Homo sapiens: one gene and its partner. The protein of the gene in region 1 purifies or fractionates together with the protein of each later gene. This does not show direct contact. Each region holds a gene or a part of one and is shown in the gene's direction. Other genes may lie near its edges.

What was found.
Region 2: the proteins of FMN1 (region 1) and NAPG purify together in Homo sapiens (affinity purification with mass spectrometry; 2 studies listed by BioGRID and IntAct, with this or other methods). This does not show direct contact.

What each region holds. Positions count from the first base shown.
Region 1 is NC_000015.10:33,149,385-33,156,913, reverse strand, and holds part of FMN1 (formin-1), read left to right. Parts: intron 1-1,868; 5' UTR 1,869-1,999; coding exon 2,000-3,866; intron 3,867-4,126; exon of another isoform or gene 4,127-5,534; coding exon of another isoform or gene 5,535-5,656; exon of another isoform or gene 5,657-6,361; coding exon of another isoform or gene 6,362-6,395; exon of another isoform or gene 6,396-7,130; intron 7,131-7,529. UniProt on the Homo sapiens protein: Plays a role in the formation of adherens junction and the polymerization of linear actin cables.
Region 2 is NC_000018.10:10,550,027-10,553,264, forward strand, and holds the end of NAPG (gamma-soluble NSF attachment protein), read left to right. Parts: intron 1-50; coding exon 51-194; 3' UTR 195-2,738; downstream 2,739-3,238. UniProt on the Homo sapiens protein: Required for vesicular transport between the endoplasmic reticulum and the Golgi apparatus.

The sequences.
Region 1 (7,529 bases):
AGAACAGCTAGAGGAAAATGATGCTTGAAGAGAGAGGAGAGCATTCTATTTTTCCAAAACTCAGCATAGCTCATCTGCTGCTTCCCTTCAGTTTGTCTGAGAATTCATTAATTGAACTCCTAATGCTTAGTGCTCAGCGGATATTGACAGCTTTGCAATTGCTTTTATTACTGATTATTATAAATTACACAATAAGAGACTACCTCCTAAGTGAGTTCTTGGACACATGCAGCGAGTTTTTACCAATAATTATTAAGTATCCCTACACATGTGCATCTTTAGAAAATGCTAGCAATAAGCATTTTAGAAAAGTTTTAAAAATACGGCCGGGAGCAGTGGCTCACACCTATAATCCCAGCACTCTGAGAAGCTGAAGTGGGAGGATCGCTTGAGTCCAAGATTTCCAGACCACCCTGGGAAACATGGCAAAAGGCTGTTTCTACAAAAAAAAAAAATACAAAAAAACTAGCTGGGTGGTGGTGGCACGTGCCTGTAGTCCCACCTATTCGGGAGGCTGAGGCAGGAGGATCACTTGAGCCTAGGATGTTGAGACGGCAGTGAGCCATGTTTGCACCACTGTACTCCAGCCTAAGCGACAGAGCAAGAACCCATCTAAAAAAAAAAAAAAAAAAAAAAAAAACTACTTGAGTGAGAACAGCCCCATATACAATTGTGAAAGAGGCAAGGCCTCTCCTGGTCTCCTGGCATTCTGGTTTGACCAGATATCTGCAATTTTCATAACTGTCATTTTATCACTCTCTTCCTCAAGGAGTTACTTTTACCAGACTCTTCCTCCTTTCTCTCTTCCTTCACTCAAAATATACTTTTATGTAGCTTTTTTGCTATTTAGAAGCAGTTAGAAAAAACCTGAGGAAAATAATTCACTAAAGATATCAAGGGCTAATGAATAGTTATTGTGTTATCATTCCCAGGGTGTGGGCGGTGCTTGTTTTAAGCAAGGAAGGCTTGAAGACTGGGCAATAGCTTAAGAAACTAGAAATATAGAGTTTGTGTGTGGGGATGGTAGCCACAGAGACATTTCTGAGGTCCCTCATATCACACAAGGAAGCAGCCACCTTCACTAATTATGTGACATTTCAGCCGTTTCTGTGGTGACATCATTGAAAAATCTGTACAGGGCCAGCCGTTCCTTATAGATTTTTTGCTGTTCCTCTGTCATTCCATTTGGCTTCGAATAGACAACAGGAAGGAAAAAAGAAGGCAATACAACAACAAAAAATAAATAAAAAAGAAAACAGCAAAACTTGATTAAGACTTGAGTTATTTAAATTTTAAACTTTTACATTGAAATTTTTACTGTTGACACCAAATTTGGGGCCTAAGATCTTTCCTCACATTGTGTTTTAAGTTGAATCGATAATTTGAGCTCAGATCTTGAAGGTGGTTTTTAGAGGGTAAAAAGGCTTGATCGATCTACCTTTGCAAAGTAATATTCCAAATATGAGTTATGAAAATGGCTGTGTTTTCTAAGGATCTCAAAGCCCCCTAGATAAGGACTTCTGGGAGTTATGATAGCTCTATTTTACAGAAGAACATAAACCAAGGTCTAGAGAAGTTGAGAGACCTGATCCAGGCTGCACAGTGAGTCCCCATGTAGGGAAAGGGAACTTTTGTCCTGGGGGTGAAATGAGAGGACTTTCCCATCTCTCAGTTATACAAAAGTTCTACTGATCAGGAGTAGGGTGGGAGTGAGGAAGAGATTGAAATCTGGCTGTTGTCTGATTCCTTGAGTTGTTGAGGTCAGCCACAGAGGAAGGATAAGTCATGGTTATGCTTTGATTTTATGTTGGTGTGTGATTTATGCACTCTGTTAGACAAGCTGCTTTCTTCCCCTGTTCCTCTAACAGGCAGTCTCATTGCTGGAGATGACTGTCAGCTGCTTTCTCTGCATAGCCACCATCACATGCCTCACCACTGGAGCCTGGGAAGCCTGACCACAAACCGGCATCTCCAAGGCATGAATAATTAGGTAGGCATAATGGAAGGCACTCATTGTACCCTCCAATTGCATAAGCCCATTACGGAACTCTGCTACATCAGCTTCTGTCTTCCAAAGGGGGAAGTCAGAGGATTTTCATACAAGGGCACTGTAACTCTAGACAGATCCAATAAAGGTTTTCATAACTGCTACCAAGTCAGGGAGGAGTCAGACATCATCAGCCTCAGCCAGGAGCCGGACGAACATCCAGGCGACATATTTTTCAAGCAGACTCCCACGAAAGACATTCTAACTGAGCTGTACAAACTCACAACAGAGAGGGAGAGACTGCTAACCAATCTCCTGAGCTCAGACCACATCCTGGGGATCACGATGGGGAACCAGGAGGGGAAGCTGCAAGAGCTGTCCGTGAGCCTGGCCCCCGAGGATGACTGTTTCCAGAGTGCTGGTGACTGGCAGGGAGAGCTCCCCGTGGGCCCTCTCAATAAGAGGAGCACCCACGGGAACAAAAAGCCTCGGAGGTCTAGTGGAAGGAGAGAGAGCTTTGGGGCCCTTCCACAGAAGAGGACCAAAAGAAAAGGGCGTGGAGGCCGAGAATCAGCTCCTCTGATGGGCAAGGACAAGATCTGTTCCAGCCACTCCCTTCCTCTTTCTAGAACAAGGCCTAACCTTTGGGTACTAGAGGAGAAAGGAAATCTGCTCCCGAATGGGGCACTTGCCTGCTCCCTGCAGAGGAGAGAGAGCTGCCCCCCAGATATTCCCAAGACGCCAGACACAGACCTTGGCTTTGGGAGCTTTGAGACGGCTTTCAAGGACACTGGGCTTGGAAGAGAAGTGCTGCCCCCTGACTGCAGCTCCACAGAGGCAGGAGGGGATGGCATTCGGAGGCCGCCGAGCGGGCTGGAGCATCAGCAAACAGGTTTGTCTGAAAGTCACCAGGACCCTGAGAAGCATCCAGAGGCAGAAAAGGATGAGATGGAGAAGCCGGCTAAGCGGACTTGCAAGCAGAAACCTGTCTCCAAAGTGGTGGCCAAAGTTCAGGACCTGTCCTCCCAGGTACAAAGAGTAGTTAAAACGCATTCTAAGGGTAAGGAGACGATTGCCATTCGCCCAGCAGCCCACGCTGAGTTTGTACCCAAAGCCGACTTGCTCACCCTCCCGGGAGCTGAGGCTGGGGCTCATGGCTCCAGGCGGCAGGGCAAGGAGCGGCAAGGGGATAGGTCATCGCAGTCGCCAGCCGGGGAAACAGCCTCCATTTCTAGTGTGTCGGCCAGTGCCGAGGGGGCCGTGAACAAGGTCCCCCTGAAGGTGATAGAGAGTGAGAAGTTAGATGAAGCCCCTGAGGGGAAAAGACTGGGCTTCCCTGTCCACACGAGTGTCCCTCACACTCGCCCAGAAACGAGAAACAAGAGGAGAGCCGGGTTGCCCCTTGGTGGCCACAAGTCCTTGTTTCTGGATCTGCCCCACAAAGTAGGTCCTGACTCCTCACAACCCAGAGGTGATAAGAAGAAGCCATCCCCACCAGCACCGGCAGCTCTTGGCAAGGTGTTTAATAATTCAGCCTCGCAGTCCAGCACACACAAACAGACGTCACCTGTTCCCTCGCCTCTGTCTCCAAGGCTCCCCAGCCCTCAGCAGCATCACAGGATCCTCCGGCTCCCTGCATTGCCTGGTGAGAGGGAAGCTGCTCTTAATGACTCTCCTTGTAGAAAGAGCCGTGTCTTCTCTGGGTGCGTCTCTGCTGACACCTTGGAGCCACCATCCTCTGCAAAGGTCACGGAGACCAAAGGAGCCAGCCCGGCCTTCCTCAGAGCAGGCCAACCTCGGTTGGTGCCTGGGGAAACTTTGGAAAAGAGCTTGGGGCCAGGGAAGACCACAGCTGAGCCCCAGCACCAGTCACCTCCAGGTTAGTCTCTGTTTAAGATGCTTTGAATCTATTCTTGGCTGATTGGGGAACTATCAGTCTGCCTGTGCTACTTAGAAACTGACTGATTAACAATGGACCAAAATTCCTAGGCCTATTACTTCACTTTGTAGCAAGAAAACGGGGAGTGGAACAGCGGGGTGTGGAGATGATTAGGATGGTTTTGACCTAGTGGTTCAGAGGTATAGTTGCTTCCAGGACTTTGTGAATGTCTTTTATTTCTTTCTTTTTTTTTTTTTTTGGCATCCTCTAAAGTTACTTCTGTGGTTGCGTAACAGTGACTCTCAAAGGAAAACAGGAACAGGCAGAGAGAAGTGGTAACTTGTCCCTGCCTTTGATGGTAACACTGGGTAATTGGCCTCTTGACCTAAATTCTGCCATTCATGCTGCTGGAGTCATTCTAGGGATTCTCTAAGCAGAAGTGCAAAAGTACGCTGTGTCTTCACTTATGTCTGTAGTTAGAGGTTTTTGTTTGTTTGTTTTTAGTAATCATCTCGATAAGTGCTATTATTTTATGACAAAAACTTTTGTGTTTTAACAGAACAGGAAGGAATTCAGTCTAATTTGAAGAAACTTGGTTCAAAGTTTTCTTTTTTTACAGTTTTTAAATTTCCCAAATAAGCACAAATTGACTTTATTCCGTAGGTATCTTTTACTTATGGGTTGTTACTGTTACTGGTATAGCATCATTTCTTATGTAAAAGGTGCTAAAGAGCTCATTTGACTTACATACTTAATGTGATTTAAAATGTTACATGAAAATAATTTTGTGGATTCAATAGGACCAAAAAAGACTGTGTAAAAGAAGCACTGCTCTGGTATTCATTACATTTTCTAGGCTGTTGTGGCCAGAATCTCAGGGTTTTATATGCCATTGTGCAGGTTATGTGTTCTTTTTCAGAGCTCCTCTAACAGCATGTGGGCAATGCTTTTTCTAGGGAATAGCTCCTAATATGATAGACAGTCTCTTACAGGTTAGAGCAAACATCAAGTGCAATTTTTGAGATAAAAAATATCTATCTAGGGAAGAGGAGCTTCAAAGCTTTTTGGTCATTTTGAACTTGTGAAATTTTATAAATCTCTCTAGATCATTGATCCAGGGGGTAGAGCTTTAAAAATGTGGTAAATGCTTTTCATCTTGTTTTTTGCAATAAATCTTGTTTTGATAAGATTTTCTACTTTCATAACCAATATGCTTCACCAGGAAAGTCACAGAATCGTAGATTTTATATCATGTATTGCAGAACCCTAGTGATGAAAATTCTTTCTCCTGTCGGATGCTGAGGACTTAGAAACACTTGACAAGGAAACTCTCTGAGATTATTAAGAGAGAGATTTCTGGAGGCAAGAGTGTAGAATATCTTAGCTGCCTTAACTCCAAAAACTGCAGAAACTGTGCATTAAATACATTGCTCTTTAGTAAATCCTCTTTTTCCTCAATGTAGGATTATCTTATTATTTTGCCCTTTTTCTATTTGAAAAATATCATAAAAGCTCCAGTGTATCTGGATCAAGGCAGGCACACAGAGCACATTCAGTTTCTGTTGGAGACTGACCGTGAGCCCACTGAGTGACAAGGTGAATGGATGATCACATGTTCCTTTGGCCTCTCCGTGCAATCACTCAACATTCCCTTTACTTTGGCCTCAGCCTTCCATTGGGATCTTCAGCAGCACTTTCAGGAACCAGTCATAAGAACTGTAAGCATCTCCTGTGCTTCTAACCTTATAAAAGAAGAAGCTGGAAAAGGGAAGGAGAGTAGAAGTGGGTAAGAGCTTTTTTTGATATGGGTAACTTCTCTACTGTGGAGACTTCCTATAGGGCCTCCAGCCATTACCTCCTATTGGCCCTACTTTGAAAGGCATGAGGGAGGGAGTTCCCCAGATAGTACCTTTGATTTGTATCCTCTGTCTAGTTCCCTTTTCTCTCTTGATTTTCCCTTTCCTGTCGCTGTGAGTCCTCTTTATATTCTGAACCCTTCAGTGACTCCCTGCAGCTGGGAAGCCCATACAGGGAGAAGTTTCCTGCTTCCAGCTACCTTTGTCTTTCACTTCATTTCTCTTCCCACCTAAACCCAGAAGAGGGCTCAGAGAGTTGCCAGCAGTCCAGAAAGAGGGGTGAATAATTCATTTACCATCACACTACAGTGTCCCTTTATCTGAACCCAACTCCCACCTTTCTCCCAGGTTAGCTATTAACCAGATTAAGTTTATGGTCTGTGGACATTTATTTCCTGTGGAAATAACATCTAGGTATTTTTATTGAAGTGATGTCATTAAGATTATTGAAAGCTCTCATTAACTGCTTAAGAAAGAGATTAAGTCTGGCAAAAGTAATCAGATCTGTTTCCAGTTGGAAGACTCTTCAATGTTAGAGGCAAGTAGTAATTCCCAGGAACCAGTGAAACCCGCTTATCCTTGTTACAAGACTAAGCAGTTAAAGCTGACATTACCATTCATGCAGGATGTAGCATAAGGATGTCACAGAGGCCAGCGATGCACCTTCTGTTGGGTTTGTAATTTCTTAACTTCTCATTTCAAGGATGATGCATGGGAATCTCCATTATCACCACATAGTGGTGATAAAATAGAGAATATACTAACAAGAACTGGTAGTCAGGTTTTTCTTCTCCTGCCTCCTCCCACCACCAACCTGGAGATTGGTTTTATAGTATTTTATTTGGCGGGTGGAGACTGATGTGGAATGTTCCCAAGCCTTTGTGGAGTATGGTCTTCCCCCAAACCTTGAGGAACTCTAGTTGTGCTAGCCTGCAAAGCAGTGTCCTTGGAGCTTGGTGCTAGGATTCCTTTCTGTTTTGCTTGCTTTCATTTACCTTTGATTCAAAGTAAACCCTTTTAGTGCCAGAAGAATCACAGGGAGCTTGGCTCACCATACTTGGGAAATGCCCAATCTTTAGTATGCTCTTGAGTAATCCTGTGGTTGTTTTCCTTTGACTGAAGTCACTGATGTGGTGATGGAAGCATATGCTCCAGGCATAGTTCTTCCTGATATTGAGAACTGAGAATCTCTTGATCAATTCTTGTGCCCATGAAAATATGTAATTAATGTCAACTTATTAAGAGTTAAGAGGCATACATGAAATAAATTTTATTTACATGTGTAAACCCCTAATACTACTGTCAAAGCTTTGATTGTCTCTGTGGATATACATTATGGGAAGTAAATATAAACTCTTCCCATATTAATATTAAGGTTTGATGCAATTCCAATAAAATTGTAAAGAAGCGTCACGACATTAATAGACATATGCAGCCATTTAAGGTTACTACAGAAAGTATGTAGTACAAAGAAAATTATCTAAAATTAATGGAGGGAAAATAGGACTCAAAAATTGCATCAGCCATATTCTACCCATATAAAACAAATACAGGAATTAAGTTGACATAAAGTATGTTGCTATGCACTTTTGAGAAAGTAATAGGATCCCAATTAAAACTCTGTGTAACTATGACCTGGCAATCCCACTTTTAGGAATTTAGCTTACATAAATATATGTACCAATAAGAAATTAGGCATAAGGATGTTTATTGCAGCATTGTCTGTAGTGGCAAAAAATAGCTAGAAAAAATTTGAATGTTCATCATTAGAGAAATGGTTAAATAAATGATTGTGCATTTATGCTCT
Region 2 (3,238 bases), on another chromosome or scaffold:
GTTAGGATTCTAGTTATCCAGCTTTTAAGAACATGTTCTGTTGTTGACAGTATGCTAAGCTGGGCCTGAGTTTGGTGGTTCCAGGAGGGGGAATCAAGAAGAAATCACCTGCAACACCACAGGCCAAGCCTGATGGTGTCACTGCCACGGCTGCTGATGAAGAGGAAGATGAATACTCAGGAGGACTATGCTAGTATTTTGCTTGCTGAAAAGAAAAGGGAAACAAAGGTAAAATCCTGACATGCCATTTCAAGGACTTGGGAATAGATTAGGGATATCCGTACTTCATTACAGTCATGATTTTGGATCCTAATAAAGACTAGTTTTTAGTTACCATCTTCCCAAATCACTCATTGTATCCATTACCTGTGAAGCATATCTTTTTCTTTCCATAAGAGCTTTTCTAAGACACCAGCAGGAATTAACAGAAAATGTACTGTCATGTTTTAATACATTGATTAAAAAATTTGCAAGCCAAATTATACATAAATTATGTTCTAAACAAAAGGGGTAATAAGCATAGGTATTCTCTCTTGGACACTTGTAAGTTACTGTTAGTGAATTGTTTTTTACGTTTCATTTAATAATTGCTGCTAAAGGTGATGTTTACTGATAAATCATTTTAAAATTTTTTTGTTTTGAAAAGTAAATTTATCCCCCATGATGTTAGATACATTTAAATTATTAAGTCTTTTCAGAGATGAGATGGGGACAGGAAGTTATTTTGAGCCTTACAATATTATTTAGCCCAATAAAAGATGCATTGAAGCTCTTATATATTATGAGTTTGAAAAATTTTGAAGGTAGCATATTGAAGTGATCTATAAATATCTTCAGTCCTCTCTGAAGTGTGGGTATTTCTTCTATCTAAAAAATACATACAGTGACTGTCTTCAAATCTACTTGGTTCTTGACCAAATAGGAGCTAATGGGTAATGAATACCTTTTTGTTTGTTTGTTTGTTTGTTTTGTTTTTTGTTTTTTTTTTTAAGGGTCTCACTCTTTTGCCCAGGCTGGAGTGCAGTGGCACAATCACGGCTCCCAGGCTAATGTTTTTATTTTTAATTTGTAATTTTTTTTTTATTTTTTTTGTTGAGATGGAGTTGCTCCATGTTGCACAGGCTGTTCTCAAACTCCTAAGCTCAAGCCATCTGCCTGCCTTGGCCTCCCAAAGTGCTGGGATTGTAGACATAAGCCACCTCACCCAGCCTATGAATATCTTTCTAACATTGTAAGAATGAGGTAATGTTTCCATCAGTCTAATACAGATATATTTCTTCCCTCCAAAACAGTTTATTTTGATTGTTTATTTTATTTTGATTGTAACTCCGTCATAACTTGACATGGAAAATGCTATATACTATGAAAACTTAGCTGAAAGGGAAGAATTGTTTTAGAAAGACAATATTTAAAACACCGCACTGCCAATATATTGATCCTTTATAGTTATTTCCTAAAATGCTGTTTTCGAAACATTCCTTTTTCACCCTGTTGTGTGGCTTAGACCCATCTCGTAATCTGTTAATTGGAAAGAGGCTACAGACACCAGCAGTGTGCGTTCTGCAGGTACACGCTGCCAAAGTAATTCCTGCTCATCCATGCCCTGTCTCTGTCTCTTTTAGAGTCATACCTTATTTGAGTATAGGTTGCTTAATTTTGCTAGACTTCCTGAAAACACTAAGGTGGAGTATCAGAAGTGATTTTAGTCACAGTTCTGCGGGAGAGCTTAGAATAACATCCTCCTTTGGGAGGTGGTCTCGGGTGCGTGGATGTTGGTATACAGTCTTTATTGTAAGTCTGATACAAAATGCTAATAAATTTAATGTTTTTCTTCCTTAATTTATTGGCATAGTTCTTCAGGTAGCACCTCATTTTTATTAATGATATTGGGATTAACTATGAACAAGCTATATGTAGACATTTGCATTTAAGGACATTGCAGTGTTTCAAAGATCCCATCATTGCAGCTTGTATCCTTTAGATCCAATCGGAAACTTCTGGAGTCTTACATTAATGCTCATTTGAGCTAATTAGTAATCTGTTTAAACAGATTTGGCAATACTTTAAAGATACTGTAGACTATTTATGTATAGATAGATCATATTACCCATTAAAGTCTGGGGGAAAAAATTTTTTAATTTTACTCTTCTTATGTACTGAAAACTTTTTTTAAAAAAGGTGATGATGAAGTGCATTCTGTAGCAGCAGCGCAGCTATGCTTTAAACCACACAAAAGGCTGTGTCCAGGTGCAGCCTCCTTCACCCTTCCTGCCCACGGTGAGGATTGAATAACCAGGACTTGGGGATATTGTTTGTTGTCAGGGTTATTCTGTGTGGTAAGGAATATTTGTTTCACATTTATACATTTTCTTTTTCCACTCACGTAAGTTTCTATCTTGAGAGCATAGTCCAAAGTGCAAAACTTGGTGTTTACAAGGAAAATTGTCTTCCAGAACTCCACTGTCATCACTTTCACCAAAGTGGAAGTTTGCATGAATATGCTCAGAATCTAATATTCAATGTTCTGTTACATTGTAAGTGAAGTCCAGCTACAAAATAGATTTAATATATTGAATTTATTTGTACATATGCAGAGTACGGTATTTCTGTATGGAATCTGCTTTATTCCTATTTTTCCCAACTCTGATGAGTAGAATATTAAATGTGTTGTTATGGAAATACAGATTATTGCTTCTATAGGAAGATAATTATGAAAATAAAACCTGAAACTATATAAATATAATTGTTCTTTGTATTATTTATTTTGTTTAGCTTGTTTTAATTTTCTTTTTTCCAGGGACACATTCTCTTAATTATATGACTTCAGCATTATTTTACAAGGACAGTATTTTGTTATCTGCAGTTGTCTTTTCTGCTCTTTGGGAGTAAGGTACCTTTGGGAATTTAAACTGTTTGAGCTTCTTAAAATACCAGTCATTCAGTTATTGTAATACTACATATACTGCTGTTTGGTGAGATGAAAGACTAATACCTCTTCCAAGAGAGTAATTCTTTGATTGGGTTAAGTGAGATAAAACCATGTATGATTAGGAGGCTAAGAGAACTGATGTGAAATTGTTTACATAATTAGCACCTTAAATACTAGCAGATTTACTTACAATCAGACATTTATTGGATGCTAACTATGTAATATTATCCCTGTCTTTCATGGAATGGAAATTAATAATATAATTTGATACCTGGATTCAGGAGAAGTTGAAGTAAGAAAGAATGCAGA